2 linked regions of the Homo sapiens genome follow. The protein of the gene in region 2 interacts with the protein of the main gene of each other region in a pairwise test. Each region holds a gene or a part of one and is shown on either strand. Other genes may lie near its edges.

Region 1 (3,749 bases), on a different chromosome or scaffold from region 2:
CTGAAAATCTGATCGCCGTGGACCCTATGTGACACTCAGTGTAACTGAGAGGGCTCTGGAAAGCCAAGCTGAACTTTTAATTAGTAAAGCAAATCATGGAAAACTGACAAGTCTGCTTTATATTTTATATGTAAAAAAGCAACATGGGTTTTTTAAAATGTGCGTTTTCCAGGGGTAGTTTTTGGTGACTGCTCTGCAGATTTTTAAGGCAATGTTAAACAACATTTTTATTTTTATTGTGAAACCTTTTTTTTATTGTTTATTCAAAGTGCTGCTGTAATTGGTGTTTGTATGTCTCTCTCTTAAGTGTGGTTTGCAGTGAATCACTTGTTGCCCCTTAAACAGTTAGCCTGGATTTAACCTCCAAGAGATTAAGTCTGGCAGAGTCTGAATTTTACACTGCTCTTTTCTTTGGAAGCTCTTCTGAAATCAGTGGAATAGAAATACAGGGGTACGAACAGCTCATCTGACAGGTAGGGAAGATTAATCCCCTTTAGAAAGGTTTCAGCTGGTGGACTGGCACTCCTTTAAAATGCATTCCCTGAGAGGCCAGGATGGGAAAAGTTATTAGTGAAATGGGAACTGGATGTGAAGGACTTGAGCTCCCTAATCTGCAGGACCTGGCTAGTCTGTTGTAGTGCTGGAAATTTGTGTACTCTTTGTAATCCTTTCCCTTGGAGAGTTCTAATTATATAATTCCACATTGTAGTCAGGGAAAAGAAAGTTAACGCTACAAACTGTTACTCCTTCCCAGGGTTTATAACCATCTTCTAAAATGGTTCCTTGATGACAGGCCTTTCCTTTTGGTGTTTATCTGGTTCATTCCCTGGGAACCTGGAGGGGACACTGTGAAGGACTCCCTCCTCCTCCTCTTCCACACCCCATCAGCGTCTTGTGGTTTCCACGTGGTGAAGGGCTGGGCAGCCCAATTTTGGGTTTACCTTGAGGTGCCTCCTTGGGGGCTCCTCGGGGCGGGCTCTTCCTTGCTCTTGCCCATTGGTTGTGACTCCATACATTGTCATTAGGATATTTCCTTTTTGGGAGCCCCGTGGTGACCACCAAGTGGAGAATACCAAGCATGTAAGGTTTCAAAGTAAAGAAACCAGGGGGCTTTGTTTTGCAGTGGAAGCATTGCTAGCTAGGTCTGGATTTTTATTGGTTGCACCCCAGCTGCATGGCCAATAGCAATTTCATGAAGGGACTGTTGGGTTGAAGGGACTGGCTTTGAAAACATTACTTCTCAGTGACCCTTTGGGCTCTTAGGTTCTGCTTTGCCCCACAACACCACCATAACACTGTTGAGGCTTTCAGTGGGTAGTGTGGGCTTCTTGAGTTTTGAAAGTAAAAATCCAAGCAACAAGAGGCGCTCCAGCCCATTAATTATAGCTGCAACTGGCCGGGGTTTTGTAGCAGCCGCCTTTTTCTAGCATGTATTTATTTGGTTTTGTTGAAGAGCTTGCCAAGTTGGAAACGAGGGCGGGACAGCTTTGCTTGCGTGTGCAGTTGTCATAAAATATGTCTGGGGTGTAATCTGTTTAAAATCATATTCGTAGAGTGGCCAAAGAATTGTTGAACAGTGTTGGGAATTTTCATAAAGCTTTTACAAAATAGGGAATTTTATTGGTGTGGTTGGCACTGTTTTTGGGATTTCTGTGGGTGTTTTCTTTTTAAGTCCTATCTCTGAAAAAAGCAAAAAACTCAAAAGCTAAAGGGAAGGAAATAATTACAGAAAAATGTAGCTTAATTCGACTAAGTAGCTTGGTCCTCTAGAAATCCTTAAGTTCTAGTGGGAAGTGGTGTGTATGTCTTTAATTGTCGCTGGAATGAGCTTCAGTAAGCACTCTGTCACTTTCTAGATGTTATCAGAGGAGAATGTGGCGGCTGCTTCAAGTCCTCCTGGAGTGGGGGAGGGTTCCCCTAAATCCCAAATACTCCTAGCCTAATGGTTTCCACACCCTCCTGGAGGGATAGTTAACACAATGGGCAGTTAAAATAAGGAAATGTTTAGGCCTGAACTCCTCATTGTAGGCTTGTGCTGTGGAATATAGTAGCCACCAGGCACACACAGCTATATAAGTTAAAATTAATTAAAATTAAAAGAAATTAAAGATTCACTTCCTCCCCTTCACTGGCTTCATTTCAGGTGTCAGTAGCCACAAATTGCTATGCAAAAATGTCACTGGGATTTTAGTAGAGGTTGCATTGAATTGGTAGATGGATCTGAGTAGTATTAACTTTTTTTTTTTTTTTTGAGTTAAGGTCTTGCTCTGTCACCCAGGCTGGAGTGCAGTGGTGCAAACACGGCTCACTACCTCTGGCCTTAACCTCCTGGGCTAAGCCTCTACCTCCTGGGCTCAAGTTATCCTCCCATCTTAGCCTCTGAAGTAGCTGGAACCACAGGCACGCGCTACCGTGCCTGGCTAATTCTTTGATTTTTTTTCGTAGAGATGGAGGTCCACTTGTGTTGCCCAGGCTGGTCTTGAACTCCTGGGCTGAAGGGATTCCCCACCCCCACCCCAGTCCTGGGATCGTAGGCATGAGCCACCTCACTGGCCATCATCTTAACAGTATTGTCTTCCTGTCCATAAACACAGGATGTCTTAACATTTATTTAGACCTTTCATTTCTTTCAGCAATGTTTTTTAGTTTTTAGTGTATGAGTCTTTTGCCTCTTAAGTTAAATCTATTCCTGAGTATTTTATTCTTTTCGAGCTGTTGTAATTGGAATTGTGTTTTTTAAATTTCCTTTTCACATTGCCCACTGTTAGTGCACAGAAATGTAACATTTTTGTGTGTTGATTTTCTAACCTGCAAGCTTGTGGAATTTGCTTATTAGCTCAAATAGCATTTTTGTAGCTCTTATTCTGTATGTAAAGTCGTATCATCTACAAATAGGCATAATTTTACTTCTTCCTTTACAATTTGGATGCCTTTTATTATTTTTGGTCTTGCCTAATTGCTCAGCCTGGAACTTCCAATACAGTCATGGGCCAAATAATGATGTTTTCAGACGATGGACCACCTATATGACAGTGGTCCCATAAGATAACACTACTGTATATGACTGTGCCTTTTATATGGTTAGATACACAAATGCTTCCCATCCTGTTACAGTTGCCTACAGTATTCAGTACAGCCACATGCTGTATAGGTTTGTTGTAGCCTAGGAGAAGTAGGCTACACCACATAGCCTAGGTGTGCAGTTTGTGTGAGGGACACTCTATGATGTTCATATGATGATGAAATTGCCCAGGGACACATTTCCCAGAATGTATCGTCATCGTTGAGCAACGCATGACTGTACTGTGTTGAATAGAAGAGGTGAAAATGGGCATTCTTGTCTTGTTCCTGATCTTGGAGGAAAAGCTTTCAGTCTTTTAACATTGAGTGTGATGTTTGCTGGGCTTGTCGTATATGGCTTTTACTATGTTGAGGTGGTTTCCTTTCTATTAGTTTATTCTCATTTTTTGGTATATTTTTGACTTTTAGAACATGCTAACATTCTACAAGTTCAAAAAATAAATCACTAAGAATAGCAGGAAACTAGAATTGAATACAAAGAAGCACATAAATGCAAATGTGTTGCAAATGAGTAACATGACTACACAGATGGGGGAAAAGAAACCGTAATGTTGGACTCAGTGCTTTGACGGTGTATCCTCAGCCTACAGGAGAAACAACAACCTGAAAGCAAAACTGGCACCCTTCTTAGTAGGTTTGATTTTCATAGTGGTGTGGGTATATCCATT
Region 2 (3,749 bases):
ATCTCCTCCCCATCCTCCACCCCTACTGGATGGGAGGTCAGCAACAGGGAGCCTGGCTCTTCTGAGCTTGATACCTGCAAGCAGAGTGCTCACCCTATCCCGTATTTTGGCCATAGACAGCCTCCCAGGGCTATATCTCAGGGAACTTTCTGAGAGGTATGAGCTGGGGCTGGCTCCCAGGGAAACCTCTGGTTCTGAGCTGCCCTGTGTGTGGGGTGGGGGTGGGGTGGGCATAGCACTTTCTGGGTTCATCATGAACTGTGGCTCTGCCTCCTACCTCCTTGCCCTCTCGGAGCTGAGTGAGCATGACAATGAGGGACACTTCCTCTTGCCACACCATCTCCCAGAAGTCCGACACAGTGTTGGGCATGGGGCCCTGGGTGGCAATGTAGACCTTCTCCTTCCCGTCATAGCCCTGGAAGGTGGAAGCACAGGGGAAGGGGTGGGGAGCAGTGAGAGCAGAGCTCTGGGGAGATCCTAGATGCCTCAGGTGCTGGGGTCAGCCTGAAGCTGTGAACCACACGTGTAGACGTACACATGCACGAACACGCACACTCAGAAGCCACATGATGGAAAGGATACGGGTTCTGGAATGAGGATCAGATCCCTGTTCTGCTGTTTCCTGGCTGTACCACTATAAGCCAGTTACCTAGCCTCCGTAAGCCTCAGTGGTATCATCTGTAAATTGGGCATAATAATATCTATCTTGTAGGAATGTAGAGTGGATTAAATTCAGTAAGATATATTGAGAGTCTAGCCGATAGCAAGTGCTCTATAAATGTTTATTCCCTTCCTCCCCTGCTGCTTTCTTCTAGCACAAAATACCTAAACAGTGTTTAATATTTGTTCAGTGACAGTTTCACATTTACAGGTTACTACTTTTCTATGAAAGTAGTAGCAAAATGTAGCACACTCTCCCTAACCTGATTTTCTCACCTTCAGGATCCTCAGCTTCCTGCTTCTCAAGATGGTGAAATCCAGACTGCAGTTGATCCGGTATTGGCCGGCAAATGTAAGATCATGTTTCCCCATGGCTTCCCTAGCTAAGAGCTTTTCGCCTCCCTGCGCCCCTGACTGATGTCTTACCCACATTGAGTCACTAGAGAGCGCTGCTTTTACATCTCCTTAGGGCCCACAGCAGCGAGAAGCTGGCGTGGAACACCCACCTGGCCTGGAGCTTCCTATAGCTTGACGTCAATCAACCATCTTCATATAAGAGGGGCTATCTGAGGGGCAGTTAAGGTAAGTTGGCGGGGAGGTCCCATTAGTGCTGGCATCACCTATGCAGTTCTCGGGAGCTGTGAGCTCTTAAGCAGCTGGAGATTGGGTTCAACAATGCTAACTTCCTGCTAAGTTTAGAGGGTGGCATGGGAGGACTGATAGTGGAGGTTAGGGAGACTTGGTGGTCTCTCCAGATATTTTTCAACATCTGCTCCGTTTTTTAGGTTGGTGTTTTGGGGCATGTTCAGTACCAGCCCAGCTTGGTAGGGCTATGACAGCAGTGAGCTGGAGCAGGGAGGGTAGGAAATGCAGGCACCTGATCCACCAGCCATGGCTGGAAGATATTCTCAGACGTCTGAGAATTCCCCCATTCCCCGCCCACCACTGCAGCCAGGCCACTCACTCGGATGTAGTTGGCATTGATGTAATCTCCGTCCTCCTGGCTCTGTGCCCGGCCTAGACAGACACGGCTCTGGGGATCTAGGAAATAAAAATCAGCAGAGGTCAGAGGTCAGAAGGTGACCAACTAACACAGACTCAAGCAGGGTCAGAAAGAGGAGAGTTCCTGTGCTCATCACAGTCATAGCACCTTGTGTATAGCAGGTGGCCTTACACCCACTGAAGTTGTTGTTTTTGTTGTTGTTTTTAGAGACAGGGTCTCATTCTGTTGCCTAGGCTGGAGTGCAGTGGTGCGATCATAGCTCACTGTAACCTCTAACTCTTGGGCTCAAGTGATACTTTTGTCTCAGCCTTTGACATAGCTGGGACTATAGGCAAATGCCACCACACCTGGCTTGCTTATTTATTTATTTATTTACGTTTTTTGTAGAGATTGGGTTTCACTTTGTTGCCCAAGCTGGTCTTGAATTTCTGACTTCAAGCAATTCTCCCACCTCAACCTCCCAAAGTGCTGAGATTACATGTGTGAGCCACCATGTCTGGCCCCTATTGAAGTATTTTATACGCAGACAGTAGGAAGCTGTATAATGTTTTTGAGCAGGAGAGTGACATGATCAAAACAATAGTTTGGGAAGATTAACTGAGTGGTGCTGTATAGGATGGACTAGAGAAGAAAGGGAACGGAACAGCAGAGACCAAATGGGAAGATACAATATTAGATATAATATTCTAATAGATACAGTATTCTATCCTTGAGATCAGTACAGGTTTAGAACAAGATTATGCCACTAGGGATGGAAAAAGAGATGTAGAGGAAGAAGAATTTGTTTTCTAATGGTGAATATGGGATTCACATGAGCAACTTGCCAGATATCACATAGCTGTGAAGTGGGACTAGGACTCAGATTCCGCTCAGCCACGAGGCATTTGGCCTCTGCCTCTAAGGGGGAAGGATTTCTCTAAATGAAACCCAAACATGGATGAAGAAGCTGGCTTGTGAGGAAAGGAGAAGAGACTCTCGCTCTGCTCATGCCAGCCTGGTCATGGACAGAAGGTACCCTGGGGACCAGGGGAATCTCAGGCAAAGGAATTTTTCCCTTTTCTGGTGGCTGCAGGGCTGATTAGAATTAGGCCAAGAACAAGGGCTACTCCTCCCCCTGGCCTGGAATAGCGCTAATAGCACCTTGATCCGCCCATGCAGGCAGAGGACACTCCAGGAGGGTTAGCAGGAGACAGGGCCCGAGTGCTCACTGAGCTAAAGCCTCAAGCTGGGAGTAGCTTCCCTGTAGGGAGAGCAGGGGAGGGAGGGAGAGGCTCCGGGGCCTCATGCCTGCCTCCGAAAAATAGAAGGTGCTTGCTCCGGGTCTGCCAGTTTGCAGGGTCACCCCCTCCTAGCACAGTGTCCTCCCTCCCCGCCTCCACTGCTCTCTTGCTGGCCGTTGCCCTGTCTCCATCTGACTTTCTCAAAGCCATCTCTCTGGGAGCCCTCCTGGTGGTGCTTCCTTCACTGCAAGCCTTGGCTGGGCATTTCCCATGCAAGAGGAAGACAGGGAAAGGGGCTTGGTGCAAGTAGCTAAGTTGAATATCTTAGGTAAGATATTCAACTTCTCTGTGCCTTAGTTTCCTCACTTGTAAAATGGTCATCACAGTACCAACTTCATGGGATTGTTGTGAGAAATGAGTGAATATAAAGGATTGAGGCTGGACGCGGTGGCTTACGCCTGTAATCCCAGCACTTTGGGAGGCCGAGGTGGGCGGATCACCTGAGGTCGGGAGTTCGAGACCAGCCTGACCAACATGGAGAAACCCCACCTCTGCTAAAAATACAAAATTAGCCACGCATGGAGGCGCATGCCTGTAATCCCAGCTACTCGGGAGGCTGAGGCAGGAGAATCGCTTGAACCCGGGAGGCGGAGGTTGCAGTGAGCCCAGATTGCGCCATTGCACTCCAGCCTGGGTGACGAGAGTGAAAACTCCGTCTTAAAAAAAAAAAAAAGGATTGAGAACAGGGCCTGGCCCAGGGTACATATCTGCAAACATTATTATTGCTGCTGTTGTGATTCTTGCTCCTTCTTCCCCCTTTCTCTGCTGAGAGAAGATGTGCCAAGCAAGGTTGATCTTCCCTGGCT

What was found. Proteins that work in one complex are often made in the same cells at the same time.
Region 1: the proteins of PTPN7 (region 2) and ROR2 interact in a two-hybrid assay, tested with the Homo sapiens proteins (one study listed by BioGRID and IntAct).

What each region holds. Positions count from the first base shown.
Region 1 is NC_000009.12:91,943,582-91,947,330, reverse strand, and holds part of ROR2 (tyrosine-protein kinase transmembrane receptor ROR2 isoform 1 precursor), read left to right. Parts: intron 1-3,749. UniProt on the Homo sapiens protein: Tyrosine-protein kinase receptor which may be involved in the early formation of the chondrocytes. It seems to be required for cartilage and growth plate development. Phosphorylates YWHAB, leading to induction of osteogenesis and bone formation.
Region 2 is NC_000001.11:202,153,909-202,157,657, forward strand, and holds part of PTPN7 (tyrosine-protein phosphatase non-receptor type 7), read right to left. Parts: intron 1,702-3,749; coding exon 1,625-1,701; intron 416-1,624; coding exon 278-415; intron 1-277. UniProt on the Homo sapiens protein: Protein phosphatase that acts preferentially on tyrosine-phosphorylated MAPK1. Plays a role in the regulation of T and B-lymphocyte development and signal transduction.